Homo sapiens: one gene and its partners. The protein of the gene in region 3 purifies or fractionates together with the protein of the main gene of each other region. This does not show direct contact. Each region holds a gene or a part of one and is shown on either strand. Other genes may lie near its edges. The genes, in order: FAM83H, FAM83D, CSNK1D and PER1.

The links.
Region 1: the proteins of CSNK1D (region 3) and FAM83H purify together in Homo sapiens (co-immunoprecipitation; 6 studies listed by BioGRID and IntAct, with this or other methods). This does not show direct contact.
Region 2: the proteins of CSNK1D (region 3) and FAM83D purify together in Homo sapiens (affinity purification with mass spectrometry; 5 studies listed by BioGRID and IntAct, with this or other methods). This does not show direct contact.
Region 4: the proteins of CSNK1D (region 3) and PER1 purify together in Homo sapiens (affinity purification with mass spectrometry; 5 studies listed by BioGRID and IntAct, with this or other methods). This does not show direct contact.

What each region holds. Positions count from the first base shown.
Region 1 is NC_000008.11:143,730,762-143,737,996, forward strand, and holds the start of FAM83H (protein FAM83H), read right to left. Parts: upstream 3,019-7,235; 5' UTR 2,930-3,018; intron 2,393-2,929; exon of another isoform or gene 2,322-2,392; intron 1-2,321. Other genes in the region: IQANK1 (IQ motif and ankyrin repeat domain-containing protein 1), read left to right, coding at 5,093-5,177. UniProt on the Homo sapiens protein: May play a major role in the structural organization and calcification of developing enamel. May play a role in keratin cytoskeleton disassembly by recruiting CSNK1A1 to keratin filaments. Thereby, it may regulate epithelial cell migration.
Region 2 is NC_000020.11:38,922,596-38,929,426, reverse strand, and holds the start of FAM83D (protein FAM83D), read right to left. Parts: upstream 3,011-6,831; 5' UTR 2,985-3,010; coding exon 2,502-2,984; intron 1-2,501.
Region 3 is NC_000017.11:82,249,682-82,256,702, forward strand, and holds part of CSNK1D (casein kinase I isoform delta), read right to left. Parts: intron 5,897-7,021; coding exon 5,748-5,896; intron 3,564-5,747; coding exon 3,335-3,563; intron 2,924-3,334; coding exon 2,753-2,923; intron 1,847-2,752; coding exon 1,698-1,846; intron 499-1,697; exon of another isoform or gene 17-498; intron 1-16. UniProt on the Homo sapiens protein: Essential serine/threonine-protein kinase that regulates diverse cellular growth and survival processes including Wnt signaling, DNA repair and circadian rhythms. It can phosphorylate a large number of proteins.
Region 4 is NC_000017.11:8,142,384-8,149,404, forward strand, and holds part of PER1 (period circadian protein homolog 1), read right to left. Parts: intron 6,928-7,021; coding exon 6,876-6,927; intron 6,404-6,875; coding exon 6,261-6,403; intron 5,877-6,260; coding exon 5,798-5,876; intron 5,721-5,797; coding exon 5,614-5,720; intron 5,445-5,613; coding exon 5,291-5,444; intron 5,196-5,290; coding exon 5,087-5,195; intron 4,999-5,086; coding exon 4,867-4,998; intron 4,620-4,866; coding exon 4,514-4,619; intron 4,383-4,513; coding exon 4,211-4,382; intron 4,120-4,210; coding exon 3,989-4,119; intron 3,755-3,988; coding exon 3,575-3,754; intron 2,689-3,574; exon of another isoform or gene 2,611-2,688; coding exon 2,368-2,610; intron 1,494-2,367; coding exon 883-1,493; intron 453-882; coding exon 266-452; intron 76-265; coding exon 1-75. UniProt on the Homo sapiens protein: Transcriptional repressor which forms a core component of the circadian clock.

The DNA of each region.
Region 1 (7,235 bases), on a different chromosome or scaffold from region 3:
GAGCAACCCAGACCCTAGGATGCCCCTAGCTGAGGGGACACTGGCAGAGGGCTGGGGCACAGGTATCCCAGCCCTGTCTCTCCTTTCTCTGGGAGGCTGAGGCAGGAGGACTGCTTGAAGCCAGGAGTTTGAAACCAGCCTGGGCAACACAGCAAGACCCCATCTCTACAAAAAATTTTAAACATTAGGCAGGCATGGTGGCGTGCACACATAGTCCCAGGCACTTGGGAAGCTGAGACAGAAGGATTGTTTGAGCCCAGGAGTTGGAGGCTGCTGTGAATTATGATTGTGACACTGCACTCCTGCCTGGGTGACAGAGTGAGACCACATCACTACAAAAAATAAAAATAAAACGAACCCCCCCCCCCAAATATTTCATGACTGTTGGCTTAAAGACAAACAATCCAGGCTGCATTCATCATTATAATATTCACTTTTTTCTTATTTTAAGACATTCACGGACCCCTGGCACTGTGCCTACTGGACAAGCTGGTGCCGCCCATGCTGCCCATGTGTCCGTCTCTGACTGCCTGGGAGACTGTGGGTAGGTCACTGCACCTCTCTGGCCTACCTCTACTGCACAACACAGCTGAGGGTCCACATGACACCACGCCTAGCCCAAGGTGAGCGCAGCAAACAGGGCTGTGACTACCCTCCTCCTGGAATGGCAACCTTAAGCCCCACACATAGTCCCGGGCCACACCTCCTCCCCATCCTCAGGGTTTCACAATTGGGCTCCCACAGCCCATTCTATGACCGCCCAGTCCTGGAACACTGATCCCTAGACTCCGTCCCTGTCTCCCAGCACCCCCTCCTTCCCTTGGCCTACCTTTGACCTCTTTCTTGTCACTGTCCCTCTCAGATAAAACCTCCCTGGGCCACAGCCCCTTGGTGCCCACAGGGCCCTGCAGGGCCTGCACTCCACATCGCCCAAATCTGGCTCTCCACTTGCTCAGAGTCCTGTCCCCACCAGCCCCCATCCAGGGCAGCAGGGACCTTTCCAGGTCCTGGGCTCGCCACCACCATCCATGCTTGGCTGCCCCACAGCCCACTCTGTTCTCCAAAGGGTCCCTGCGGGGGCCTGGCCTCTCCAGAAAGGTGTCAGATGGGGAGCGCCCAGGGCCCACGCACACAGGGTCACTGAGCTACCTGGGTACCTCTCCCTGGAAGGAGAGCCCTAGGGACTGCTCAGTCCATCCCACTGCTCCTCGGGTTGGGGAGGGAGGCAGGACACCTGTCCCCGCCTAGCACACAGGTTCCTGAATGTTGGCCCTGGCTAGGAAGGTGCCCAGAGGAGCGTGCCCCTGGGCGCTGACAGGATGGATGCCGGCCAGCTGGACTACATGGGTGCTAGCCGGAGCCACTTGGCTGAGAATGTTGGGGTCAGGAGGCAGCCGTCCTGCCTGGTGCCCCTGGGGGTGACATGGAGTTGAGACATGGGAAATACCTGGTGCCACTCAACAGCCCTAGATGCCAACCGGCTTGGGAGAAGCTGTCCCAACATTTCTTTGTTGGGGCACCGTCCTCATGGTTGACATATGGGGCTGGTTAGGGCACACCGCTCTGGTTGTGCCAGGGGCAGATCGAGGCCAACCACATGGGGGTGAGGTGTAGGCCTGTCTGGCTGGGCCGAGGAGCCCACTCACCATTGCCAGCCTGTCTGTAGGGGCGGTGTCTGACCATACAGGGCAGGGGGAACAACCCTGCTGATGTTGTTTGAGGGTACTTCCCGACACTGGGGGGACACTCTAGAAAGGACCCCCACTGTCCCTTTGGATTTCAGTGTCCAGGCTCCAGGCTGTGTGTAATGGGGGCAGGGACCATCCAGACAGTGGAAGCCCCCGTGGCCAGGAGCCCTCCCAGCAGACATGCCTCGTCCTCACAGGGTGATGCCCAGACCTCCAACTGCTTCATTCCTCACGTCGTCTCCTTTCATGGGTACGTGTCTCCTGGGCTATGGACGGGGCTGCAGCCACTCCCGAGCCCAAGATGGAGCACCCCAGTGGCCTGCATGCCCACACATTTGCCTACCAAACGTCTGCCCAAGGGAGGGAGGGCGCGGAACCCACCCATGGGCAATGACTCAGCACGAATCCACTCTTCTGCTTGCTGACCCCTGACCTCTGACTCGAAGTCAGGGCCCTCAGCTGGCCTTCAAGGACCCCATCCTCTCCACCCTGGCAGGAAGTGGGGTTCCTGAGTATCTGGAAGGAGGACCCCATGGAAGGATCTGGAGTTCCTACACAAAGTGGGGTGAACCTGTGCCAAGTTCCGATGGGCGCAGGAGGGCGCGGAGGCTCTAGGCGGCGGAAAGGTGGGGTGCGGAGGACGGGGCTCACAGACCGGAAGTCGCTCAGTGATAACTTGCGGAGTGGGCACCCCAGCCCCCAACGGGGTCAGTGCACCCTACGAGCTCGCGGCTGCGGCCGCTGGGTGCCCTATCCGCCCACCCCAGCCCAGGAACGTGGGCGCGAGGGGCAGCACTCCCATCACTCGCCCTGCTCGCCACGCGGGGATCCAGGCCGCACCCTGGCCACCCCAGTCCACGGCGGCCCGGGCGGATGTCCCCAGGGAAGGGTCCAGGCCGTGCCCAGCACCCAGACTCCAGCTAGGCCGCGAGGGCGGGAGCGAGTCGGGACGGCCGGGCAGGCTCGACCCGGATCCCGGGCCCCTTCCCCCTCGGCTCTTTTCGGGCCGGCGTCGTGCGGGGGCGCTCGCGTCCATATCCGCACAGCGGCGCCCCCTGTCCGAGCAGCCCCGCCACCCCGGCCCCGCGCACGCGGCCGCGCTCCACTCCCACCGCCCCTCTCTGGGTCGCGCGGCCCCGGCCCAGGTGTGGGCGCAAGGGTAGCCCAAGTGGGACCGCGCCAAGGGGCGCCCGCCCCCCGCCTCGCCCCGCCCCGCTCGGGCCGGGGGAGGGGGGCCCTACCTGGCCAGGTGCGCGGGGTCTCGGCACAGGGGCAGCAGGAGCCGACCGCCGCCCAGCGGCCTCGCGGTCCGGTCGGTCCGGCAGCCACTCCCTGCCGCGGCCCGCCCGGCCTGATTCACGCGCCCGCCCCCGCCCCGCCCGTCGCTCCTGCCTCCTGCCTGCCCGGGCAGCACCTGGGGGCGGGGCAGCCCCACCCGCGGCGCGCCCGCATTCCTGCGCCCCGCGCCCGCCGCCAGCCCCAGCCCGCGCCCCCGGCCCGCGCCCCGACCCGCCCGTGCCCTGCGGCCGCGCGCCCGGAGACCCCGGCCCAGCGCCGCCGGAGACCGTGAGGCCCGCACTTCAAAGACCCCGACCCCCGGGAGCCCAACTGTTGACCCAAGGCTCAAAGTTCCCAGCCTGACCCCTGACCCTCGCCCCGGAAGTCGGGGTGACTCGGAAGTTCCGGCTCAGTCGCTAGGAAACGAGCGAGCCCGACGCCAGGGGCGGAGCTCTGGCCTCCTCGCCGAGTTGGGGGAGGCAGGTGCGACAGGTGAGGACGGTGGGGCGGCGTCGAGCCCCGGGCGGGGCCGGGTCTGGGAGCCCCGAGAGCACAGGGGATCCCCTCACCACACACCGGTCTCCCACCGCACCAGCGCCCCACACGTAGACGAGGACCCCGCCCACACAGAGGACCCCCAGACCCCAACCCCCACCACACACACTGATGCCCACAAGTACCTGGGGTCCCCCATCTTTCTCCCTCACCCCCTCACACCGATGCCCACACTTGTAGGGGACTCTGCCGCAGTGACCCCCCCATGCACATGCGGACCCCGAATGACCTGTGCCTCATGTACACCAACCCCCAAGCACAGGAGACTCCTCAGGAAGACAGAAGCCACAAGCACACCGAGTCCTGCCCATGCCAGTCACCCACGAACACGCTGACATCCGCACACCTAGGGAACCCCACCTGCATATGAGATTTCTCAGACACCAACCCCACACACAAACAGGGGATGCCATATTCACACTGACTCTGAGAGCACAGGGGACCTCCCTCACATACGGAACCCTGTGTACACACAGGGACTCTGCAAAAACCAAGCCCCAACGGACAAGGGACCCAGTGTGCACACCAAGCCTCATACCAGACGCCCCCCCATGTACACAGCAACCCCCACACACCACCCCGAGCTGCCCCTGGGTGCTCCAGTCCCCCAGGTCCCCCTCAGGCCCTCACTTAGGGCCCCTCCCCCTCTTAGGCCCTGCCCTACACTGGATCATCTGTCCAAACCACCACCCCTCGCCCCTGCCACTCCCACCCCAAGGACTGGCCCTGCCTCAACCCTTTCTGATGGTCATCAGTCGCCTTTCTCTTTGTTCCTCTTGCCATGTGATCCTATTTTCTGTTTTCAGGGTCAGTCCCAGTTTCATTTGTTCTTTCCCCAAACACTCAGTGCCACCCCACTGGTACCAGCATGCTGGAAACATGGGTGGGGGGTCAGACCAGTGCCCAGGCAACTGTGCTGCAGCGGGTGAGGGGCATGGGGCACCGGGGAGGACCCGGACAGGCTGGGGCAGGCAGGAGGAGCCTCCCAGGGAAATGAACTTGGGGGTCAGCTGTGTGGACTAGGGAGAGGGGTGTTGCTCCAGGGCCTGACACCACCATCTGCCAGAGCCGGGACCACATAAGGTCTGAGGGTGTGGAGGGGTGAGTGCCTTGGGTGGGCTGGGGAGCAGGCTCAGGGGTGGGCTGGCTTCCCAGGGCAGTGGAGAGGCATGGAGGCTTCAGCAGAGAGGGCCATGCTCATGATTACGGTGAGAACAAAGACCGGCCCACTGGCAACCCAGCAGCTTGGGGCAGGGAGAAGAGTGCTAGACTCCAGATCCTGCGCCCGGCAGGATGGGCTGAGCCTGGGGCGGAGGGGCAGGCAAGCCACGGCCAGGGGGACGGGAGGTGGCCAAGTGCTCTTGCCAGGCATCCCGGCTCAAGCTTCTGGGCACACACCCGGGGCGGGCAGGCAGACAGGACACCAGCTGGGAAGCCTCAGGGGAGCCCATGTTCCTGCTGTCATCCACTCAGGCGCCCATGGTGTGCCCTGTTCCCCACTGCCACTGCCCCTGCCCTCTGCCACTCTGAGCACCCTCTCCCTGGTCCTTCCCTACCCACCCCCCAGGAGAATGGACAGTAAGAAGGGGAGACCCAAAGCTGCAGCTGGGAAGTGGCAGACGCTCCACCCTGGGCCCAAGACAAGAGCTGCTGCTGGTAAGTGCACCCTCTGACCTCCAGAGCACTGTCACCCAGACACTGACCTGTGAGACCTTCTATGTAGCCACCGAGAGACACCCCCTCTGAGGAGAGCCCTTCTTCCAAGAGTGGCTTTTAGGGGACCTCTGAGTTGGGATTAGGTGTGATTGACTGAGGGTTCAGAGCCCATTCATTCATCTCAGACCTTGAGCCTGAATCTATTTTTTTTTTTTTTTTTGAGACGGAGTCTCGCTCTTGTCACCCAGTCGAGTGCAATGGCGCAATCCCTCCTCACTGCAACCTCCGCCTCCTGGGTCCAAGTGAGTCTTGTGCTTCAGCCTCCCGAGTAGCTGGGATTATGGACGTGCGCCACCACGCCCTGCTGATTTTTGTATTTTTGTTTTAGTAGAGACGGGGTTTCGCCACATTGACCAGGCTGGTCTTGAATTCCTGACCTCAGGTGATCCGCCCGCCTCGGCCTCTCAAAGTGCTGGGATTACAGGCTTGAGCCACATGCCCGGCCAAGCCTGAATCTTATACCCCTGGGGTTGGGGTGGGGGCCTAGGGGTAGCACTCAGAGAAGCCCAGCTTTGGAACACATGGAGGTGGGAAGGGGGCAGGAGCCAGTGGGAGGCGCCTAGATGGCCAAAAATGGGTTTTGAAACAGGAGGGTTTGAGTCCAAGTTGGGGATTCTCAGTCTAAGCATGTGTTCTCTGACTCTCTGCTCCATCTGGGCCATCCTGTGCTGCCCTCTGCCTGCGGCTTTGCTCCCAGTCACCTTCTCCATAGTCACTTCCAGGTTGGATGGTGACAGCTCACCTGGGCTGGGTTTTCCTGTGGGTCAGGAAGGAGACTTCCCCCAGTACCCTCCCCCACCCCAGCCCCGCCTTCACTGTTGTCACTCCCTTGCTCCAGCTCCCATTTATTCTCTATGCTGGCTGTGAACACATTCCAGGTTGCAAATCTGGGGTCCTTCAGCACCCAGGCCTGCACTGGGGTCTGTGCTTGCTAAGAGAGCACCCCATCCTGCTCCCCAGACTGCCCCTCTGCTTAGAGTGGGCCTGGCCTAACACCCCTGGTTGCCAGAGAGCTCCCAGATTCACAGGAGCAGGTGGGATGATGGTGACCGCTCCTCCACGCCAGGCTGGGGTTAGATCCTAGTTCCCCAAAATAGCCCCAGCTGCGTCTGAGGCCAGCCGCCCTCCTGGAATGAGGATAATGGGCACAGGTGCCGCATGCTGCTTCCGCAATCTCTAGCCCTGAGTACACTGCACTCCAATAAACGGGGGGCAGGGCAGGTGGACCAGCAAGGCAGCCAGGAAACTGGGTTGCAGGGGTGGGGGCTGTGCTCTTCAGTTCTGCTACCTACTGACTGCACACCCAGGCCTTCGCCCTGCACCGCAGCCCATACACTGCCCTGGACGGCTCTGGCCCAGCATGCCTGGGTCTGCTGCAGGGACACCTCTGTCCCTGAACAAGTATCTGCCCTCAGTGCCCATTTCCACCAAGCATTGGGCCAGCCTGGGCAGGCTTGCTGTCCCTTGGTCTTGCAGTGCCCTGTGTGGCGGGCACCGGCTTCACTTGGCAGATGTGAAGATGGGCCCACAGATACCCTGCATCCAGCCTGGCTTCCTGGGCCTCCACAGGCATCCCTAGGTTGCTGCAGTGGCCACCGCACCAACACAACAGTCCGGGACCCCTCCCGCCACCCCATCCAGGCCTTACCTGGCCTTGGGTCTGCAGTGCTTCGAAGCCCTCACTCCGGAGCTGCTCCAGGGCCACGGCCAGCTGCAGCCCCTCCACGTGTACCCAGGCCTGCTCCTCCTGTAGCTGCTGCAGCCACAGCTGCTCCTCCTGTAGCTGCTGCAGCCATAGCTGCTCCTCCCGCCACAGCTGCATCTGCAGCTGGACCTGCCGCCACCGGTCCTCCAGCAGCAGCTGCTCCTGGGCCAGGCACAGCTGGACCTCATGGAGCCTCAGCAGTTCGGGGCCCAGGGCCGGCATGGGGTCCCCTGCTCCACAGCCTTCCATGTGCCCAGCAAGGACCAGCACCAGCTCAGACCCCGGAGCAGTGG
Region 2 (6,831 bases), on a different chromosome or scaffold from region 3:
CCAGCTCTGAGGTCACTGCCACTCCGGAGACTTTCTTTCTTTAGCCCTTTCCGCAGTACCTGCAGCAAACTCCTCACTGTTTCCCATCAGCACACTGTCCACTCTCAAGTGTTGGCAAGGATGATGCCTTCCCCTGTGGCCCCAGCCATGGTAGTGTCTGATACACAGCAGGCAATGAGTAAGCAAATAATTTGGCATCTATCGGACACACTGAAAATACTCATTGGATTTTTTTTTTTTTTTTTTTCCGAGAGGGAGTCTTGCTCTGTCGCCCAGAGCTGGAGTCCAGTGGTGTGATCTCAGCTCACTACAACCTCCACCTCCCAGGTTCAAGCAATTCTCCTGCCTCAGCCTCCCAAGTAGCTGGGATTACAGGCACGCACCACCACGTCCAGCTAATTTTTGTATTTTTAGTAGAGACGGGGTTTCACGATGTTGGCCAGGCTGGTCTCGAACTCCTGACCTCGTGATCTGCCTGCCTCAGCCTCCCAAAGTGCTGGGATTACAGGCTTGAGCCACTGTGCCCAGCCAATACTCATTGGATTTAAAGGTAATGTACCACCTTTCTCAGTTAAAACTGCCCAGGTTCCAAATACAGCATCTCGGAGGGAACTGTGGGTAGCTAGACTAGGGCAGCAGGTTCTATCTGGAAATGTCAGTATTACAAAATGCCCGTGAGATGAGGGAGAGTCTGAGCTCCTGGCTCCATCCCCTCCTCACGCCAGCACGTGAGTTTAATAGTTTCCCTCTGGCCTCTAGTTCCAGTGCCCTTTTGCTATCACTAAAATTTGGGGCTGGGCAAAAGACTAGAACAATCCACAGCTCTCACTATACAGACCAGTTCTTTACATTTTTCAGGTTCCAAGTGCTCAAGTTCTACTGGACATGAGCTTTGGGGATGCATACCTACACAAGTCTGCCTTTTCCATCTTTTTAATCTTTTCACTGAACCCGCAAGGAAAATGTCTGCTGCATCAAAAAACCCTCAGTCCACCCAAAGCACCTCAGGGCTGGTAAGAGCCTAGCTGCAGCCCACAACCACTCCCTCAAAGGCAAGGCACTAGGTCACTGTATCCACTACCACTGAAACCCCACCAGTCAGGGAAAGAACATTAAGAACATTGGTGAGAGTCGGGGCTTGGACATGTCAACCTGACAATGCACTGGTATCTTCACCCACACTCAGACACACTCAGGTACCAGCCCTAACAAGTCTTAACATGGCTGGGGCTTTATCTGCCATGTCCCTGGCACAGGCAGATAGCCAGGGAGCTGGGCACTGCCAGTCAGCAAGCAACCTGACCATGGCTCCAGACCAAGGTGTCTGCCACGACACTCTATGTGCCACACCCACCTGCAGGCTGCCTTCTTCCTCCTTGATCCCCAGCACCCTGCTGCAGCTTTATCGAGGCTGGCAAGCAGACAAGACCTCCATTGCACCCATGACCATGCCATACTAAGAGTCAGACAGTAGGACCAAAACCCACTATGAATACAGAAGCCGATCTAATGCAAATGTATCTGCATTTTAGGAGACCACTGCAATCTGGCACAGACCCAGCCTATGGAAAACAAACCCCTTGCCCCAGTTTCCCCTCCAGTCTCTGGCAGTAGAAAAAGCGGCAGGGGGCCGGGTGCGGTGGCTCACGCCTGTAATCCTAGCACTTTGGGAGGCCGAGGCGGGTGGATCACCTGAGGTCAGGAGTTCGAGACCAGCTTGGCCAACATGGAGAAACCCCGTCTCTACTAAAAATACAAAAATTAGCCGGGCGTGGTGGCGGGCACCGGTAATCCCAGCTACTTGGGAGGCTGAGGCAGGAGAGTCACTTGAACCCGGGGGACGGAGGTTGCAGTGAACTGAGATCCCACCACTTCACTCCAGCCTGGGCAAAAGAGAATCTGTCTCAAAAAAAAAAAAAAAAAAAAAAGACAAGAAAGAAAAAGCGGCAGGGCTCTCACTTTGCCACTCTCGTGTTTATCTGCTTTTTACAGCAAAAGATGCATGAAAGTAATTAGCAATAATAATTGCTTCCTAATGCCCCGTAGTTGTCTCTGGAGACCATCTTTCTGGAACTTTCCCTGCGTAAGTTCTTTGGTAATGAGTCTCCTAAGAAGCTCCTGAAAGTGGGATCTAGCGTTGGCTGACAGACAGGGAAATAGGCAATTTTCCAAGTTTGATTTTAACTGAAATTTGGAACTCAGAGTACTTCTGGTCCCTCCTTCAGGGATATGAACGTTAGGAGATGGAACCCGGGCACAATTCGCATCCTTGGGAACCGAGGCTTTCCCACTATCCCCTGCCACGAGGAGCGGCCCGGGGGATCCGGGGGAGACACGCAGAGTGGGGTGTGAGTCGGAGACCCTGGGACCACCTAGCCCGCGCGCGCTTCCGGTAGGGCGCAGAGGAGGTAGTGGCCCCGGCCCGTACTCCCAGCAGGCCTCAATTTCCCATTCTTGAAGGGGGTCTCCCGTGCGACCCAGGGCCCTGGAGGGCCGCTCACCTCTCGCGCCGAGCGGAGCTGCTGGCGCAGAGCGTCCTTGCAGCCGTAGGGGCCACCTTCGCCAGCGCCGCGGGGCTGGAAGTGCGTCTCGACACGCGTGGCGCCGCGGTAGGCGCCCTGGTAGAAGGCGGGCCAGCCAAGCTCCAACAGCGGTGGCTCCAGGTCCGACTGCTCGGGGAAGTAGGTGCCCGAAGAGCAGTCGTGCGAGGAGCCGAACGAGTCCTCGGCCGCCGCCGCCGCCGCCGCGCCCTCCTCTCCCGGCCTCTCCGCCGCGCGCAGAATGGCGTGCACCTCATCGGGGTTCAGGAAACGAGCCAGGCGCTCGCGTCGCAGGAAGGCCGCGAAGGCTTCGGGGCCGCCCGCCACCAGCTCCTCCAGAGCCAGGCGCCGTGACTCGCTGAACAGCTCGGTCGGGTTGGGCGGCCCGCACGGCGACAGGCAGGCGGCGGGCACCTCGTCCAGGCCCTCGGACAGCAGAGCCATGGCGGCGCTCGGACTCGACAGCCCTCGGACAAAAACCGGCGTGCAGTCCCGCTTTATAGGCAACCTTTGAATCAAACAGGCCCGCGCCATTGGCCGCACCTCCCCGCCTCGGCTCTCCCATTGGCTGCTTTCCTTCCAATAGCGGAGCGAGGCGGGGCGCAAGCCTCTACGGCTCCGCCCCCTGATGCGTTATTGGCTGCGATGCTGGGCTTGCTAAGAGGAATTTAAACTTGCAGGGGCGAGGCGGGCCGCAGAGCAGGGACAGAGCGGGGAGAGCCGAGCTCCTGGCCATCCCAGCGCGCCCCCTGCCGGTCGCCCCGCTGCGCGGCCGTGCAAGGCCAGGGACAGTCAGGCCTAGACAACGAGGAGAGGCAGGTGCCGACTCCCGGAGACTCTGGCCACGCTGCTCCTAGGCTCTCAGTGCTTTGGCATGGCCAACCATATCGCCTTTATCACCTGCCTTTAACCATGTATTCATTCATTCAAAGAATACCGGCTCATCGTATTAGGACTGCTCCTTTGATTACACCCTCGGGTAGTCTTCTCTCATTTCATCGATTTTTGCCTTGTAAAACCCCAACCAACCGTGGTTATACCCTACTTTCCACCTGCACCCCGGCAGCCCTACAGGGCTGAAGAAAAAACAAAAAGAGCGTAACCATGCTTACTGACTGGTCATGTTTTAAATTCATAATCCGTAAGACTGCCTGCTAGGAGGCCGGGCGCGGTGGCTCACGCCTGTAATCCCAGCACTTTAGGAGGCCGAGGAGGGCGGATCACCTAAGGTCAGGCGTTTGAGACTAGCCTGACCAACACGGTGAAACCCCGTCTCTACTAAAAATACAAAAATTAGCCAGGTGTCTTGGTGTACGCCTGTAATCCCAGATACTCGGGAGGCTGAGGCAGGAGAATCACTTGAACGCGGGAGGCGGATGTTGCAGTGAGTCGAGATAGCACCACTGCACTCCAGCCTGGGCGACAAGATCGAAACTCCATCTAAAAACAAAACAAAACAAAACAAAAGCAAACAAACAAAAAAACTGCCTGGTAGGCCGCATTTCCCTCATTCTCTCTACCTTTTCCTCTCTGACAGCTTGTCTTCCATGTCAGCAAGAACACAGAAACAGTAAGAAGGGAACGTCCACGTGCGGCCATCTAGTCTACCTTCCTGTCTGCATCTCTGCCCGTATACTGGGCATTGATGAACTGTGCCTGTGCCCATCCAACCCCAACCCCTCTGCCTGGGCATTTCCAGCCCCTCTACTACTCACCAGCATCGCTCCAGCAATCTTCTTCTTTCTCCTGGAACATCAGCTTCCCTCTTTACCGATTCATTTCTATCAGCCTACAAGCATGCTGAAATATTTTTCATCTTAAAACAACCCTCTCTTGACCCTACATTCCTCTAAAGCTCCCCATCTCACTTCTTATTTTTGCAGCATAGAATCTCAGATGTGGCTGGCCATGGTGACTTACACCTGTAATCCCAGCACTGTGGGAGGCCAAGGGAAGAGGATCACTTGAGCCCAGGAGTTTGAGACCAGCCTGGGCAGCATAGTGAGACCCTGTCTTTACAAAAAAATACAAAAGTTAGCTGGGCATGGTGGTGCGCCTAACTTTTAGTGCATGGCAGTGCTCATGATGGTCCCAGCCAGTGGGAAGGCTGAGGCAAGAGATCACTTGAGCCCAGGAGTTTGCAGCTGTAGTGAACTATGATCACACCACTGCACCCCAGCCTGGGTGACAGAGTAAGACCCTGTCTCAGAAAAAGAAAGAAAGAAAAGAAAAGAAAAGAAACCCTCAAACCAGTTGTCTATACTTGCTGTCTCCAGTTCCCTTCCAGCCCTCTTCAATCAGGCTAAAACCCCCACTGCTTTACCAAAACCTCTTGTCAGGTTCATCATGAGTTCCACAGAGCTAAATCCAACAGTCAATTTTCAGTCGTCATCTTTTTTATGTAAATGAAAAGTGGGTCATAAATGTGAGATGTTACCATTATTATTTAGCAACCAATAACCTTTTTAAATGGATGAATGCCTGCCGCTGTTGAGACGCCTCTCCCTCTCTACCTCTCCTCTCCCCATCCCCATCCCTTTGTGAAGTTTCTCAAGAATAAGTGTGGGGACTTCCATGTGTCCCTGCGCTGGTATCCAGGGTCCGGGAGGCTGCAAGAGAGCACCTTCTTTTTTTTTTTTTTTTTTTTTTTTTTGAGACGGAGTCTTGCCCTGTCACCCAGGCTGGAGTGCAATGGCGTGATCTCGGCTCACTGCAACCTCCGCCTCCAGGGTTCAAACGATTATCCTGCCTCAGCCTCCTGAGTAGCTGGGATTACAGGCTCATGCCACCACACCTGGCCAATTTTCTGCATCTTTAGTAGAGATGGGGTTTCATCACGTTGGCCAGGCTGGTCTCGAACTCCTGACCTTGTGATCCGACACCCTTTTCATCCTCTTTCAAGAAAAACACCAACAAAGTTCTGTGTGGGACAAGGACCAAGGACTGTGGTCTGAGGCTGTGCAACCACATAGCTTCTCTATGCCTTTAATGCTCGAGGTAAAAAATGAGAATGGCCGGGGCCTTAGCTGCTGTATTGCTGTCATAAGGTGAAGTACTTTATAGTATCGTACTTCCCCACAATAAGCACACGAGGGGAAAGAGTGGAATGGGGCAGGGGGAAGAGGACAGGACATGTCAGTTCACTCCAAGAATGGGACAGAGGAGAGGGGCACCCTTGTTACATATAAATGTCATGAGAGGCGGGGCGTGGTGGTTCACGCCTATAATCCCAGCACTTCGGGAGCTCAAGGCGGGAGGATCACTTGAGGTCAGGAGTTGGAGACCAGCCTGGCCAACATGGTGAAACTCTATCTCCACTAAAAATACAAAAAATTAGCTGGACATCACGGCGAGCGCCTGTAATCTCAGCTACTTGGGAAGCTGAGGCAGGAGAATTGCTGGAACCCGGGAGGCAGAGGTTGCAGTGAGCTGAGATCACGCCACTGCACTCCAGACTGGGTGAAAGAGTGAGGCTCCATCTTAAAAAAATAAAAATAAATAAATAAATATCAGGAAAAACTTTGAAAATGTATGGAATAAATATATGCTACTATACGGCCTCATGTTAATTTCAAAGAGATTATTTGACAGAATGAAGGTCATTCCCAACCACCCACCTTTTCTTGAATTCATCAGTTTTCACCATCTCCTAGTCTGGGGAGACATCTGCTCCAGGTCTGAGCCCCCAGAGCTCCCTCTATTTCAGGGGTCTCATGGGAAAGCCCTCTGTGGGAAAGGGGTGGGGTAAGGGGGAAGAGACTAGGAGCTCTCACCCACCCTCTATTCCAGGAACCTCCTCTTTGTGAATTCAAGTCAGCACTGTTCAAGTGAGCTCACAGCAATAATCACTCACACTAGCAGGTGTTATTAAAAGGAATTTAATAATTTTAATTAAAAACTCTTAACAGCGAATTCTGTCACAGGCCTTGGCAGCTGGAAGCAACTCCAGGGACATGTGCCCCCTTTGGGATGTGGCTGAGCCACAGTTTTGGACCCAAGGCCCACCGGTGCCGCGTGGCAAGGGGCTACGTGGAAGTTACCTCAGTACGATATCAAAGATCTGCGAAGATTTTTTTTAAAAAAGTTTTAAATATATTAGACTCTCTTGATTGCCATTTTTACACAAAGCTGCTGATACAGTATACAGAGTTTTAATTTTTTTTCACATAAAATACATTTTTTTAAGTGTTCTCTGTACACCAGTGGCTTCTGGTCTGGTGAATTATTGCGGAGGGCTGGGGGTCTGCAGACTTTTCCTGGGTGTGCAGAGCCAGGCCCCGCACGGTGGCAC
Region 3 (7,021 bases):
GTGAGAAAATACCTACCAAAGGGCACTGGGACGAGACTGCCTGCAAAGCCCCCCACAGGCTGCACGTTTCTCCTCATGGGATGACAGCATCATCCCCACAAGGGGTCAGAGCCAGGCCTCTCAGCTCCCCCAACAATCGAAAAAACCCCACTCGCCATGGCATCTCCCTGTGGGCTCAGAACTTCCTTAAACTTCCAAATGGGCAGCAGCTACCCCCTGCTGCTCTGTGAACATGCTCACTAACACGTGCAGAAAGAGGAGAGGGACAGGAACCATCGGAGGCCAAAGACAGGCCCCAAATGGTGACAGCTGGGGAGGAAAGCGGGGTGGGGATGAGAGCGTTTGGTCGGACGAGGAGTACACTCAGGGTCCGGACCCTGCAGCCTCCAACAGCCTGTGCAGGTGTGGTGGCGTGGCCAGCAGCCGGCAGCCGGATCTGTGCTGCACTATCCAGATGCACGGGGGTGGGGAGGTCAGATTTTAAGCCGAGACAGCAACCTATGAAAAAGCAGATTCTAACTGCCAATGCTGTGCGGCAGGGGCCTGCAAACTACAGCCCCGGGGCCAAACCCAGGTGCCACTTCTTCCTGCAAGTACAGCTCATTGGACACAGCCACGTTCACCAGGCAACACACAGACCGACACACCTGCGGCTGCAGCACCGTGCGGCCAGCACCGCCCAGACTCCTCATGCTGCCATTTACGGAAAACGCTGGCCTAGCCTGCTCTGAGGGCCGGGTGACTCTAATGCCGCAGGAGGGTCGCTCTGATTCCTCCCGAGGCAGCACAGCCCCGGCAGAGGGACTGATCTGCCCTGCCGAGTGCACCCCTCCCGGCACCTGGGCCCCGAGGCTCGGGCCTGCCTCGCCTGCCATCTCTCCGGGGCCTCCAAGTACTCCCCACGCTGATGGGCACTTGGCAAGTAAGTCAAGATGAACAGAGTGCACCCCTCCCAGCATCTGGAGACCCCGCCCCTCCCTGGCCCCTGCACGACTACTGGACAAGGCTGCCGTTTTTGTACCCTCCCAAGAGGCAGTTCTGCTCCTCCATCAGACTGCTGCCTGGAAAAGCTCCAAATTCTATTTAAAACTGACAACAAAACAGTAAGTTTTTAATGAAGGAACACAACAGTTCCACAGGAGCTTCATTTCTGACAGCGGTGTCTGAAAAGTAATTCAGCTCAGACATGGACCCAGGGCTGGGCTGCCTGTTTTAGAGGCTCCACTGCATACTCACACCGCATCAAGAAAGCCACAGGGAAAATCAGCTCATGACAGGGTCAGTCAGGCTAGACGGGTAGCACCTCACCAGGCCCCAACCCCACTCATCTCGTGGGCACCACGACCATGTGGCACAGCGAATGGGAATGCGCACCCCCAGCCCCCACCCTCTGCCCCCAGGGCATGCTCTGGGCCCTAGCTCCGCTTGGTGACAGGGAGGGAAGGGGCCTCCTGCTGTCCACACCCAGGAATTCCATGGACCCCTCTGCGTTCCCTAATGGCGTCTTACTTCTTGGCACCCCTTTCTGGCAGGCAGACACCCACTCAGTCCAGGTCCTGCCCACTACACACTTGCCCTTCACAACCAGAGACACTCCCTATATGGTACAGCCCCTCAACAAGACGGCCGCCGGCCTCTCACTGACAAGCCATCCCCCGCACACCACACTCAGCGAACGTGCTGGCAGTGCGACTTACAAATTTGAGCATGTTCCAGTCGAACACGTAGTCATAGGAGAAGCCCTGGCGATGGAACAGATTCCGGAAAAGCTGCCGCAGGTACGAGTAGTCAGGCTTGTCGTCAAAACGCAAGGAACGGCAGAAATTCAGGTATGTGGCAAATTCGGCTACAAAACAAGAAACTCAAAGCTAACTCATGAAACCCAACTGCGACTCAAGGTGTCTCTGCCAACGTCGCTGTCTACCTCCTGCTGCTGCACACTCAAGGGGAGAAGGACAGATGCAAAACACCTGTCAGATTTCTAAGACCTGAAGCCTTGAGAAAGCATCGAAAAGTATTCAAGTCACGGCCGGGTGCGGCGGCTCACGCCTGTCACCCCAGCACTCTAGGAGGCTGAGGAGGGCGGATCACGAGGTCAGGAGATCAAGACCATCCTGGCTAACACAGTGAAACCCCATCTCTACTGAAAAAAAAAAAAAAAAAGTTCTAGAGCGTGGTGGCGGGCGCCTGTAGTCCCAGCTACCGGGGAGGCTGACGCAGGAGAATGGTATGAACCCGGGAGGCGGAGCTTGCAGTGAGCCGAGATCACGCCACTGCACTCTAGCCTTGGCGACAGAGTGAGACTGTGTCTTAAAAAAAAAAAAGAAGTCATAAAGCACAATTTAGTTTCATTTGAGGTGTGTATCCTGGGGCAATCCTACAAATGCAAAGGAAATCTCCCGAGCTCCTGGAGGGGGCCAGAGAGGGCAGCCACTGCAGAGAGAGGCCCCACCACTGCCTGTCCATCCCTTTCCAGCCACTTGGGGCCCTGAGGCTCGGGCCTGCCTTGCCTGCCATCTCTCCAGGGCCTCCAAGTACTCCCCACGCTGATGGGCACTTGGCAAGTAAGTCAAGATGAACAGGAGGGCAGGCTGTTACCTCCATACACAAAAGCGCCCCGCTTTCCTGCCACCACCCCTTTGGAAGGTGAGCAACTCTTCTGACAAAACCCAGACTGAGCCGTCTCGGCACACCCGACACATATGCAACCCCTGTGAGCAGCTCCGCTGAGAAGAGGCCTCCAGAGACTTACAAGGGTAGCCTTTACACAACACTTCGATGGGGGTGGACATTTTCTTCTCGCTAATCCTTTCGTATTTCTGTCTCTTGGTGGCAGCCTTCAGCCCCTGCCAGGGGAGAGAGCCCAGGTTGAAGTACATTAGCACGTAGCCCAGAGACTCCAAGTCATCTCTTCGGGATTGTTCTGAAAAGAAAAGGGAAAGGCGTGAAGAACGGCACTTGCGTGCTCACGTCAAAGCAAAAGACCCGGCTGGCCGTTCCAGTGGAGACTAGCCTCAGACACACATGCCCAGATCACTCCAGCTGGCACTTCCAGTGGAGACGAACCTCGGACACACATGCCCAGATCACTCTCACCCAGAGCTGCCCCTCATGCATACTAAGGAAATTCCCAAACACATCACAGGTGACTCAGAAATGTCCCAGCATCCGCCTGCCCCCATACACCTGGCAGTCACGAGCCAGCCTGTCTGCCGCAAAGGTCTGATGACACGCTTGCAGCCCCAGCTCCCCGAGAGGCTGGCCTCTCCCTGGGCTGAGGCATGGACGCGCCCAAAGGCACCCCAGGTCAGTGACCCCATGCCCAGGGGCTCACCAATTCCAAGGTGCGTGTTGATGGAGGCGTACCGCGCCGTCCCCGTGAGGTTCTTGTTCTCACGATAGGGGATGTGCTGGTGGGTGCGTGCATCCCGGTACTTCTTGGCCAGCCCGAAGTCGATGATGTACACCAGGTTGCCCTTCTTCCCCAGGCCCATGAGGAAGTTGTCTGGCTTCACATCCCGGTGGATGAAGTTCTTTGAATGAATGTATTCGATGCGACTGATCTGTGAGCAGAGCAAGGGCGCGAGATGGCACCCCAGGGCAGTCTCAGGGAGGGACCGCTCAACTGTGGGACACTACATCAGTGGCTGCATTGTTCCTGCCCCTCAGCCACAGCAGGGTAGTTTAACAATTAGCGAGGGGGATGCCGAACTGACCAAATTGTTCCCCCAGGTGCCTGCAGCAACCCTCCACACTCCACCCTCCACAGGCCTAGGCGCTTTGCCTTCAGCTCCCACAAAACAGAGAGGTGAGGCGACAGAGAGGGGACAACCCGCCACTAGACATCGGTCTCTCCCAGCACTGTTCTCTGCACAGACTACACACCAGGATTAGCAGAGAAACTGCACGGAGGTGCTTAGGAATCACGTGTGTTCCTGAGAGACTGAGGAACCCACTGAATGGAAACGTGCTATGCTGGTACCGAGAAGGTGGCCTCCAAGCCAGTGAGCTGAGCCACCAGAGCCTCGAGAAGCCAGTGAGCTGAGCCACCGAAGCCTCCAGAAGCCTCGAGAAGCCAGTGAACTGAGCCGCCGGAGCCTCGAGAAGCCAGTGAGCTGAGCCGCCGGAGCCTCGAGAAGCCAGTGAGCTGAGCCGCCGGAGCCTCGAGAAGCCAGTCAGCTGAGCCGCCGGAGCCTCGTGAAGCCAGTGAGCTGAGCCGCCGGAGCCTCGAGAAGCCAGTGAGCTGAGCCGCCGGAGCCTCGAGAAGCCAGTGAGCTGAGCCGCCGGAGCCTCCAGAAGCCAGTGAGCTGAGCCGCCGGAGCCTCGAGAAGCCAGTCAGCTGAGCCGCCGGAGCCTCGAGAAGCCAGTCAGCTGAGCCGCCGGAGCCTCGTGAAGCCAGTGAGCTGAGCCGCCGGAGCCTCGAGACGCCAGTGAGCTGAGCCGTCGGAGCCTCGAGAAGCCAGTGAGCTGAGCCGCCGGAGCCTCGAGAAGCCAGTGAGCTGAGCCGCCGGAGCCTTGTGAAGCCAGTGAGCTGAGCCGCCGGAGCCTCGAGAAGCCAGTGCAGTGCGCTGAGCCGCCGGAGCCTCGAGAAGCCAGTGCAGTGCGCTGAGCCGCCGGAGCCTCGAGAAGCCAGTCAGCTGAGCCGCCGGGGCCTCGAGAAGCCAGTGCGCTGAGCCGCCGGGGCCTCGAGAAGCCAGTCAGCTGAGCCGCCGGGGCCTCGAGAAGCCAGTCAGCTGAGCCGCCGGAGCCTCGAGAAGCCAGTCAGCTGAGCCGCCGGAGCCTGGAGAAGCCAGTGCGCTGAGCCGCCGGAGCCTCGAGAAGCCAGTGAGCTGAGCCGCCGGAGCCTCCAGAAGCCAGTCAGCTGAGCCGCCGGAGCCTCGAGACGCCAGTGAGCTGAGCCGCCGGAGCCTCGAGAAGCCAGTGAGCTGAGCCGCCGGAGCCTCGAGAAGCCAGTGAGCTGAGCCGCCGGAGCCTCCAGAAGCCAGTCAGCTGAGCCGCCGGAGCCTCGAGACGCCAGTGAGCTGAGCCGCCGGAGCCTCGAGAAGCCAGTGAGCTGAGCCGCCGGAGCCTCGAGAAGCCAGTGCGGTGAGCCACCGGAGCCTCGAGAAGCCAGTCAGCTGAGCCGCCGGGGCCTCGAGAAGCCAGTCAGCTGAGCCGCCGGGGCCTCGAGAAGCCAGTGTGCTGAGCCGCCGGGGGCCTCGAGAAGCCAGTCAGCTGAGCCGCCGGGGCCTCCAGAAGCCAGTGAGCTGAGCCATCGGAGCCTCGACAAGCCAGTGAGCTGAGCCGCCGGAGCCTCCAGAAGCCAGTCAGCTGAGCCGCCGGAGCCTCGAGAAGCCAGTGAGCTGAGCCGTCGGAGCCTCGAGAAGCCAGTGAGCTGAGCCGCCGGAGCCTCGAGAAGCCAGTGAGCTGGGCCGCCGGAGCCTCGAGAAGCCAGTGAGCTGAGCCGTCGGAGCCTCCAGAAGCCAGTGAGCTGGGCCGCCGGAGCCTCGAGAAGCCAGTGAGCTGGGCCGCCGGAGCCTCGAGAAGCCAGTGAGCTGGGCCGCCGGAGCCTCGAGAAGCCAGTGAGCGGAGCCACCGGAGCCTCGAGAAGCCAGTGAGCTGAGCCACTGCAGCCTCAAGGCTGAGGCTCAGCAAATTTCCATTTCCTCTGTGAATTAATGGCCATAATAATGGCAAGAACAGCACAAGCGAGTGGCTGATTCTATCAGACAGCAAGTGTGTGCCAACTGTCAGGAAACAGTCCTTACCATTTGGTCAGCAAGCAGCAGGACGGTTTTGAGGCTGAATTTCCTGGAGCAGAAGTTGAAGAGGTCCTCCAGGCTTGGCCCCAGCAGCTCCATCACCATGACGTTGTAGTCCCCCTCTGCCCCGCACCATCTGATGGTGGGGATGCCCACTAGGCAAGGAAATCAGACACAGTGTTTCAGTCCAGGCCCTGCCTCAGCTCCACACTAAGTCTGCACTGTGCACACCAAGGGGTCATGGTGACAATCCTGAACGGGGGAGGGGTGGTGGAGGTAGAAGACCCCGGCAACGCCGCTCCTCAGGGACCCATCCTCGAGATTAGGCCCCATCTATTAGCAAATGGCCTGAGGCAGACGTTGGATGAGGGCCAAGCAGACAGGAGCTGTAAGGGGGACAAGGAGGGGATCGAAGCCCCACCTCCCCGACTCCCGTCTTCTAGGGCAGGGGGGCAGGAGACACAGAAAGCAGCCACGATGTGGGAAAGAAAAGAGCTCAGGCATAAAGGAGCAGCAGAGCCCGCCAGAAACGTCACACAGGAGATGGGAGGAGAGAAAGCAGCTACCGTGGGTTAGGTGAGAGAAGAAAATATGTTCAATTACTCCGATGTTGGTAGAAGTATTTGACTGGATAAGAGAAAAGCAAAAGCAATGAAAACTTTTTGGGGATTTACACAGTAACCCAGGATTGAAATATACAAATCAGGGAAGTGAAAATAAAGACACAATAAATCCAACAGGAAGAATTTAAAGATGGCTGCATAGTATCAGTGCTGAAGGCATAATCAACACTATAAAGGCACACGGGCCAGGTGCAGTGGCTCATGCCTGTAATCCTAGCACTTTGGGAGGCTGAAACGGGAGGACTGCTTGAGCTCAGAAGTTCGAGACCAGCCTGGATAACAAAGGGAGACCCTTGTCTCTACAAAAAATTCTGGAAATTAGGTGGGTGTGGTGGCACGCTTCTGTGGTCCCAGCTACTTGGGAGGCTGAGGCAAGAGGATCACTTGAGCCCAGGAAATGGAGGCTGCAGTGAGCCGTGATGGCACCACTGTGCTCCAGCCTGGGCCACAGAGCAAGACCCTGTCAAAAAAAAAAAAAAAAATCCATTTTAGAAAAAATGGGTGAAAGACCTGGACACTTCACCCAAGACGTTACGTATGAAAAGTCAACGACCACAAGAAGATTCTCAGAGAGATGGAAAACACATGCTGGTAAAAACATGCACAGGAATGTGCACCGCAGCCTCACGCCACAGTCAAATTCAAATGCTGCAGCAA
Region 4 (7,021 bases), about 74 Mb from region 3:
GAGCAGCCCCAGCCTCAGCCTCGGAAGAGTCGATGCTGCCAAAGTATTTGCTTGTGTGGCTGCTCTGGCTGCTGCCTGTGAAGTGGGGGGCAGACCAATGGGAGTCAGGCCGGCTGCATGCCCACTCCTGGGACCTCACAAGGCCTCCCTCAAAGGCCACATGTCCATCCCAGTGGCCTTAGGAAGCTCCGCCAAGACGGGGCCTGGGCTCCCGGCTCCCCAATCACTGCCCTACCCTGGGAGATGCTGGAGGCGGGGTACTCACGAGTGATGCTGGCTGAGGTGCTGCCCCCTTCATGGGAGCCTGAACCAGACCCAGAGCCCAAGCCAGAGCCCAAGGAGCCCGAGGCTGCGGAGCCTGTGCCGGAGCGCGAGTCCTCTTGCAGCAGAAGTTCGAGCAGGTCACTGGAGCCGGAAAGTGCGTCCTGATTGGAGGACTCAGTGACCTCCGCCTGGAGGAGGGGAGGGGGGCAAGGAGGGATGGAGGGGTCAGCACCTAGGCCTCCCTTCAACTGCTCTTACTGGTTGTGGGGAGAGGCACATCCAACCCCAGTGGTCTCTGCTCCCCACTTCGTGACAGTAGGGCCAGGCTGAGAGAGAAGAAAGCTGGCGAAGAGTGGGGATGTGAGGCCAGACCCTTTCCAAGTGACAGATGCTCTCTCAGAAGTTATTGAGATGTCCTCACCACCTGTCAGACAGACAGGACTGTCCCTTCAAAGAGGAGGTAGCCAATTTCTGCCTCATTCAGAAATTCAGCTGGGGACTCCCTCCACCTCCTGGAGGCTGAGACGCCAGCCTGGCAGAGACAGCAGGCAGCACAGGGTGGCAGAGGGGCGGGGCTGGGGTGGGGGCTGGCAGGCAGACGCAGGGGTCAGTGCTCACCAGTCTGGCCTCTGGCTCAGCAGCCTCCGCACTGGGAGGTGGGGGCCCGGCACTGCTCCCAGGGCCTCCTGCAACAGCAGCCCCCTCAGCACGGGGGAGCTCCTCCAGCTGCAGCAGATTGAGCTGGAGTGGAGAGCTGCATCTCGAGTTGAACAGTGGAGAGTCCGGGCGGTGAGGAGGACTCGGGGCGAGGGCGGGCAAGGATGGAGAAGGGGAGTGCGAGGCAGGAGTGGGAGGCCCTTCAGCAGGGGTCTGGAGTGCCCCATAAGGATAGCTGGATGGGGTTGGGAACAGATAGTTAGGGAGCACCAAGGCCACCATTGGGGTCACCAAAGGGGCGGGGAAAGCAGCTGGGGGCACAGATGTGGGAGCAGGGGGAAGAGGCTGGGGGCCTCCTCGAGGAGAGAACACTGGGAGAGGGTAGGGCTGGACAACCGCTGGGAAGGGGGTAGTGGCTGGTGGGGTGGGCCAGGGGGTGGAGGGTGGCACGGGTGAGGGGTGTGAGACATAGCAGGGCGCTTCAGCCCGAGGGTTCTGGTGGTGGCGTGAGCGCTTGGCTTTGGATCGGCAGTGGTGTCGGCGGCTTGGGGGTGCGGGGCCGTGGTGGCAGCCTGTGGGGAGAGACTAGGGTTAGCAAGGACCTCAACCTGGGGTTAGTACCCCTGCTACCCACACTGCCCTGACACGCTGACCAGGGAGAGGACAGGCCAAGGTCCCAGAGAGAGCTTCTCAACCCACACAGAACGGGGGACTCAGGAGGTGGGGCACCTTCAGGGAAGAATCACAGGAGCCAGGGACAAGGGGATTTATTGAGAAAGGAACAAGGCCAGGGAGAGGTTACACGAGGGGTCGAGCTGGGGGTGTGCGGAAGATGGAGGCATGCTGGCAGATGGAGGAAGCAGGGTGAGTCCATGGACACATGGACAGATGGCTCTGGTCCGCCAAACTCCTGTGGGCACTGCCAGCCTAGGCATTCCTCCTGCCCATCGAGGCCGTATTCTGCCTAGCTTGCAATGGAGTGAAGAGTGGGGCTGGAAAGCCCAGTCCTGAGTCCTGCGTCTGCCTGCAGGGGATCTCCCTCAGGCACCTGGAGGGGCTGCCTTCCACCTGCCCTTGAAGCCCAGACCCCACCCAGAGTTGGCCCAGAATCTATGCATGTCTCTTCATCAGTGACAACTGACTCCTAAGTGGGCATACTTCCTGCCCCTGCCCCCAGGCTAGGCCTGAAGTCGCTTACCTGGAGACAGCACCTCTGCCTGCCCATCCCAGTGCCATCCCCCCAGGCTGCCCTCCTCTGGCTGCAGCCCGGAACCCCATCCTAGTGGGGAGAAGCTAGCGAGGGGCCTGTCCCTAGGCAGGGCCTAGTGGTGGAAGCAACACCAGCCTGGGTCCCTGGAGCAGAAACACCTCCCTTAAGACCCACCCCCCAACAATCCAGTCCTAGACTGGGCAGAGGGCAGGCTCCAGGAGGCCCCAGGTGGCTACCTCGCTCGCCAAGGGCTGAGGGAGCTGTGGAAGAGCTGTCGAGTCCACGCAGCCTGCCCAGGTCTCGGAAGCGGCTGAGGAAGGCTTGCTCTTCCTTCTGTGTGTGCAGGGACAGCACGGCCTTGGTCAGCCCCACTGGACGGTAGGCGTCTGGGGCTGGGTCAGGGGCTACTGTGGGGCTGGGGGCTGGGCTGGGGGCTGGGCCTGGGGCTAGGCCAGGCAGGTCCTCCATCATGATGATGTCTGAGGAGAGTGAGATAGGGAAAGGTCATCAGAACCACTTCAGGGGTCAACACATCCATACCACACCCTCCCTGTCTGATAGCCTAGCCAACCCCTGGCAGCTCTGCCCCACAGCCAAGCCTGGTCTCCATGTACGTTTCTTGGTCACCTCTCTGCCAACGGCTGGCCCTGGGTCCTCCTCTCCATGCAAAGCTGGCCCAGAAGAAGAGACGATACTCAGGCCCCTCCAGTGGCCACTCCCTGCCAGGAACTCTACTGGGATGACCCCGTCACAACTCTCATTGGAAGAGAAGCCCACCCCTTGGCCTTCCCTCACACATTTTCTTGTTTCTTTTTTTTTTTTTTTTTGACATGGAGTCTCACTCTTTCTCCCAAGCTGGAGTGCAGTGGTGCGATCTCAGCTCACTGCAACCACCACCCCCTGGGTTCAAGCGATTCTCCTGTCCCAGCCTCCCGAGTAGCTGGGACTACAGGCGCGCGCCACCACGCCCGGCTAATTTTTGCATTTTTAGTAGATACAGGGTTTCACCATGTTGCCCAGGCTGATCTCGAGCTCCTGATCTCAGGTGATCCTCCTACCTCAGCCTCCCAAAATGCTGGGATTACAGGCCTGAGCCACCATGCCCAGCCCCTCATGATTTTCAAGGTCAATATCCAAAGACCCTTCAGGGATGTTCAATTTTCCTTGCCTTCAGACCCTGTGTGGTCAGCACCTCAGGGCAAACCCTCTATCCCAGACTCTGTGTTTCAACTGACAGTAACAATACGAGAAGCAGAACAGGGGAAGGGCAAAGCCGAGAAGCCTGGCAGGGAGGGGAGAGCAAGAAGCAGTAGCCCCAAGCCCCAGGTCAAGGGAGGCCTCCTTCTCTCCATCAGGCCCTAGAGGGGAGGGGAAAGGCAGGAGGGAGCTCTAGCTGGGAGACCGGTGGAGCCCAAGCACTGCCCCCCAATTCCACACCCATACCCGACTCCGGGGGCTTCTTGTCTCCCACATGGACGATGGTGGAGCTGAAGCTACACTGACTGGTGACGGACACCACACTCTCCGCCTTATTGGCCAGGGCGAGCGGGCTCAGGGTGCCTCCCACCACTGGCTCCTTCCGTGGGGTGGCCCCCTCCCCAGACAGCGCTGCTGACGGCGGATCTGTGCAGAGAGATGGTGCCAGTTACCATCCCCACCCCCACTGGGAAGTCAGGAGAGAGGATCCCAGGGAAAAGGGGAAGGGGATGGTGGTAGGGAACAGAGGGAACAGTCTGGAGACCAGGAGGCTGGGGAGGAGAGCAGGGCAGAGCAAGAGGGCCCAGAAGCAGAAGGGAAAAGACACAGGGCCACCAGGCCAGGACGGGGCAGTGGGAGCAGGGTGCATTGGATCTTTACCTTTCTTGGTCCCCACAGAGACTGGACCTGTCCTCTGCCTGTCGTCGTCAGAGGCTGAGGAGGTGGTATAGGAGGAGGAGGAGGCACATTTACGCTTAGTGGTGCTGGGGAGGTTGCAGCTCTCCAGGTACCTGGGGATGGACACAGCACAGGGCATCAGAGCAGGGCTTGGGGTGGGCAGGGTTAGAGCCCGAGGTGGAGAAGATGCCTGGCAGGCCTTACCTGAGGATGCTGTCCAGGCAGTTGATCTGCTGGTAGGAGCAGCTGGAGGCTTCTTTCCTCTCGGCCTCCTCAGGGACCAAGGCTAGTGGGGCCTGGACGGGAGCAGAACCCGCCTCCAGCTCTGGGTCTGGGGATTGGCAGGGAAGGGCCTTGGCCTTGAACGTGCCTGTAGCTGGGGCAAAGAGAGAAAGAGGAAAATAGCCTTCTCAAGCTCACATGGAAAAAAACAGCAAATGGGTTGGGGGTGAAGGTCAGGGGACCCCCCAGGTCTGTCTCTTCACCCACACATCATCATCAACTCACCAGGGAGGCGGGGCCGGGACTGAGGCCGGGCCCGAGACTCAATAAAAAGCTGCTGGCCCTGGTGCTTCACCAGATGCACATCCTTACAGATCTGCTGGAAAGTCACCTGTGGGACACAGCACCACAGTGAGCAGAACCAGGGGGTGTCGCCAGTGTCAGGGGCCAAGGGCACAATAAAACAAGAAGGTACCAGTGGGGAGGCACAGACGCCTTGATGGGAGCAGGACAAGAAGGAAAAGGCAGGAAGGAGAGGGCAAAGGAGGATCGGGCAAGACTCTGGGACTGGCAGTGCTGGTTCCAAGAAGGAGAGGGGAAAGGGCGATTAGAGGGTGAGGTAGGAGCAGGTCACTCACTGGCGCAGGAGGCCCAGGCCCCTCTGCATCACCCCCGTTGCTATCACTGGAGGACCCAGGGCTGTGGAGAGGGCCTGGGGATGTCACGGCGCCGACTCCACAGAGTCCCGTGGGGCTGGGGCTGTGGACGGGCTGCAGCAGGGAGAGGGCAGGTTAGATGGCTTGACCCGGCTTCCCACACCTTTTCTCACCTCCCAGGCTCCCTCTCCGCTACTCTCACCTGCAGCAGCAGCCGGTGGATCTGCTCTGACAGCTCCTGGATATCAGTGTCCAGGGAGGGAGCTGGGCTGGGGGCCGGGGGAGTGAACACGTCCTCATTCAGGGGGGCCCTGTAGAGTGAAGAGTGAATCCAGCCCTGGCCCGGTCCTGTCCCCCACCGCACTGCCCTATCCCCAACGCCAGCTCGGGGGCATGGCCCACTTACGTGCGTACTTTGTGGCGGCCCAACACGAAGGCTACCTTGCGGCTCCAGGGGTGCACAAAGCCAGCCCAGCTGGTGTCCATGGTGACATACTCCCCGTTGCGGGCACAGAAGCGGATAGGGGAGTGGTCAAAGGGCTGGCCCGCCAACTGCAGAACTGATGGAAGTGGGAAAGGAGGAGCGGTCAAAGGGAGGGAGAGCTGAGTAAGAGGGAGGCCATGCCACTAGAGATCCAGGAGACCAAGGCACCAAGAGACACAACCACAAGGGCAGCCACTCAAAAGCCCAGGACAGTGGGAAGGGCGAGCAGGGCGAGAGGAACTCACTCTTCTTGTGGATAGCCAGCATGAGGGGTCGGTCCTCAGGATGCAGGAACAGGAGCACTGGGGCCCCCAGGAGGTCCTGGGGCAGGTAGCCCAGCAGGGGGGCAGCCCTGAACGGGAAGGAGGCATCAGAGTGGCCGTGGCCTCAGCCCTGGCTGCCCTCGTCTCCTCTAGGTCCTATCCTCACCTTTCATCCACATCCTGGAAGAGGCAGCTGGGTGTGTGCCGCGTAGTGAAAATCCTCTTGTCAGGGGGTATCCGGGGAGCTGAGGCACAGAGAGTGTGGTCACTGGGTTTCGTCCAGAATGCCCAACTCCTCAGCCCTCCACTCTGCCTGGGCCCAGGCTGGCTGATGATCTGCCACACAGCTCTGCCCCGGGCACTATGGGCCCAAAGATGGTCTGGGCCAATCCTATGCCCTGTATCAGTAACATGACTGAGAGCAAGCAAGGCATTCTTCTCTGCCCTCCTCTAGCTTGGGCACCTTATTCAACTCTACCTCTAAGAGGAGCTCAAATCCTCATCTTTACAATAGCTTTTCTTGTTCCAAAATTCAAAGGGTGTGGTTCATGCCTCCCAAATTCATGTCTGGCCATGAGGAAATGTCCTTCCTCCCAGCCCCCACCAGGCCAGGGCCCTGACCTGCCCACCTTCGTAACCCGAATGGATGCGCTCTGCAATCAGCAGGCAGCACGGCTGTGCAGGGGCCCCATCTGAGACCCGGATCTTGGTCACATACGGGGTTAGGCGGAATGGCTGGTACCGAGGCCCTGGATCCCGGTCAGGACCTCCTCTAGCAAAGGAGAGAGGAGCATTAGGGACTTTCAACAGAGAGCCACCCACTCCTCCAACAATAAGGTCACAGCAGACAACAGCAAAGACGCTGGGGAGGGGGCAGGAGGAGGCAGAGGTAGGCCGGGCACGGTGGCTCACGCCTTTAATCCCAGCACTTTGGGAGGCCAAGGCAGGCGGATCACCTGAGGTCAGGAGTTCGAGACCAGCCTGGCCAACATGGTGAAACCCCGTCTCTACTGAAAATACAAAAATTAGCTGGGCGTGGTGGCGCATGCCTGTAATCCCAGCTACTTGGGAGGCTGAGGCAGGAGAATCGCTTGAACCTGGGAGGCGGAGGTTGCAGTGAGCCGAGATCGTGCCACCGCAGTCCAGCCTGGGTGACAGAGTGAGACTCCCTTTCAAAAAGCAAAAACAAAAACAAAAACAAAAAAAAAAGGAGGCAGAGGTCTTCTCCAGTTCCCCTCACCTACCTGATACGGCAGAAGACGGACTTCTCCTGGGTAAAGTCCCTGAGGCCTGAACCTGGGACAGACAGGAGAGGAGTGAGCACAGCTTCCTGCCCCTTCCCTAGGCTGCGAAGAATCCACTAAGGGAAAGTCTGGGTTCCCCGGCCCCT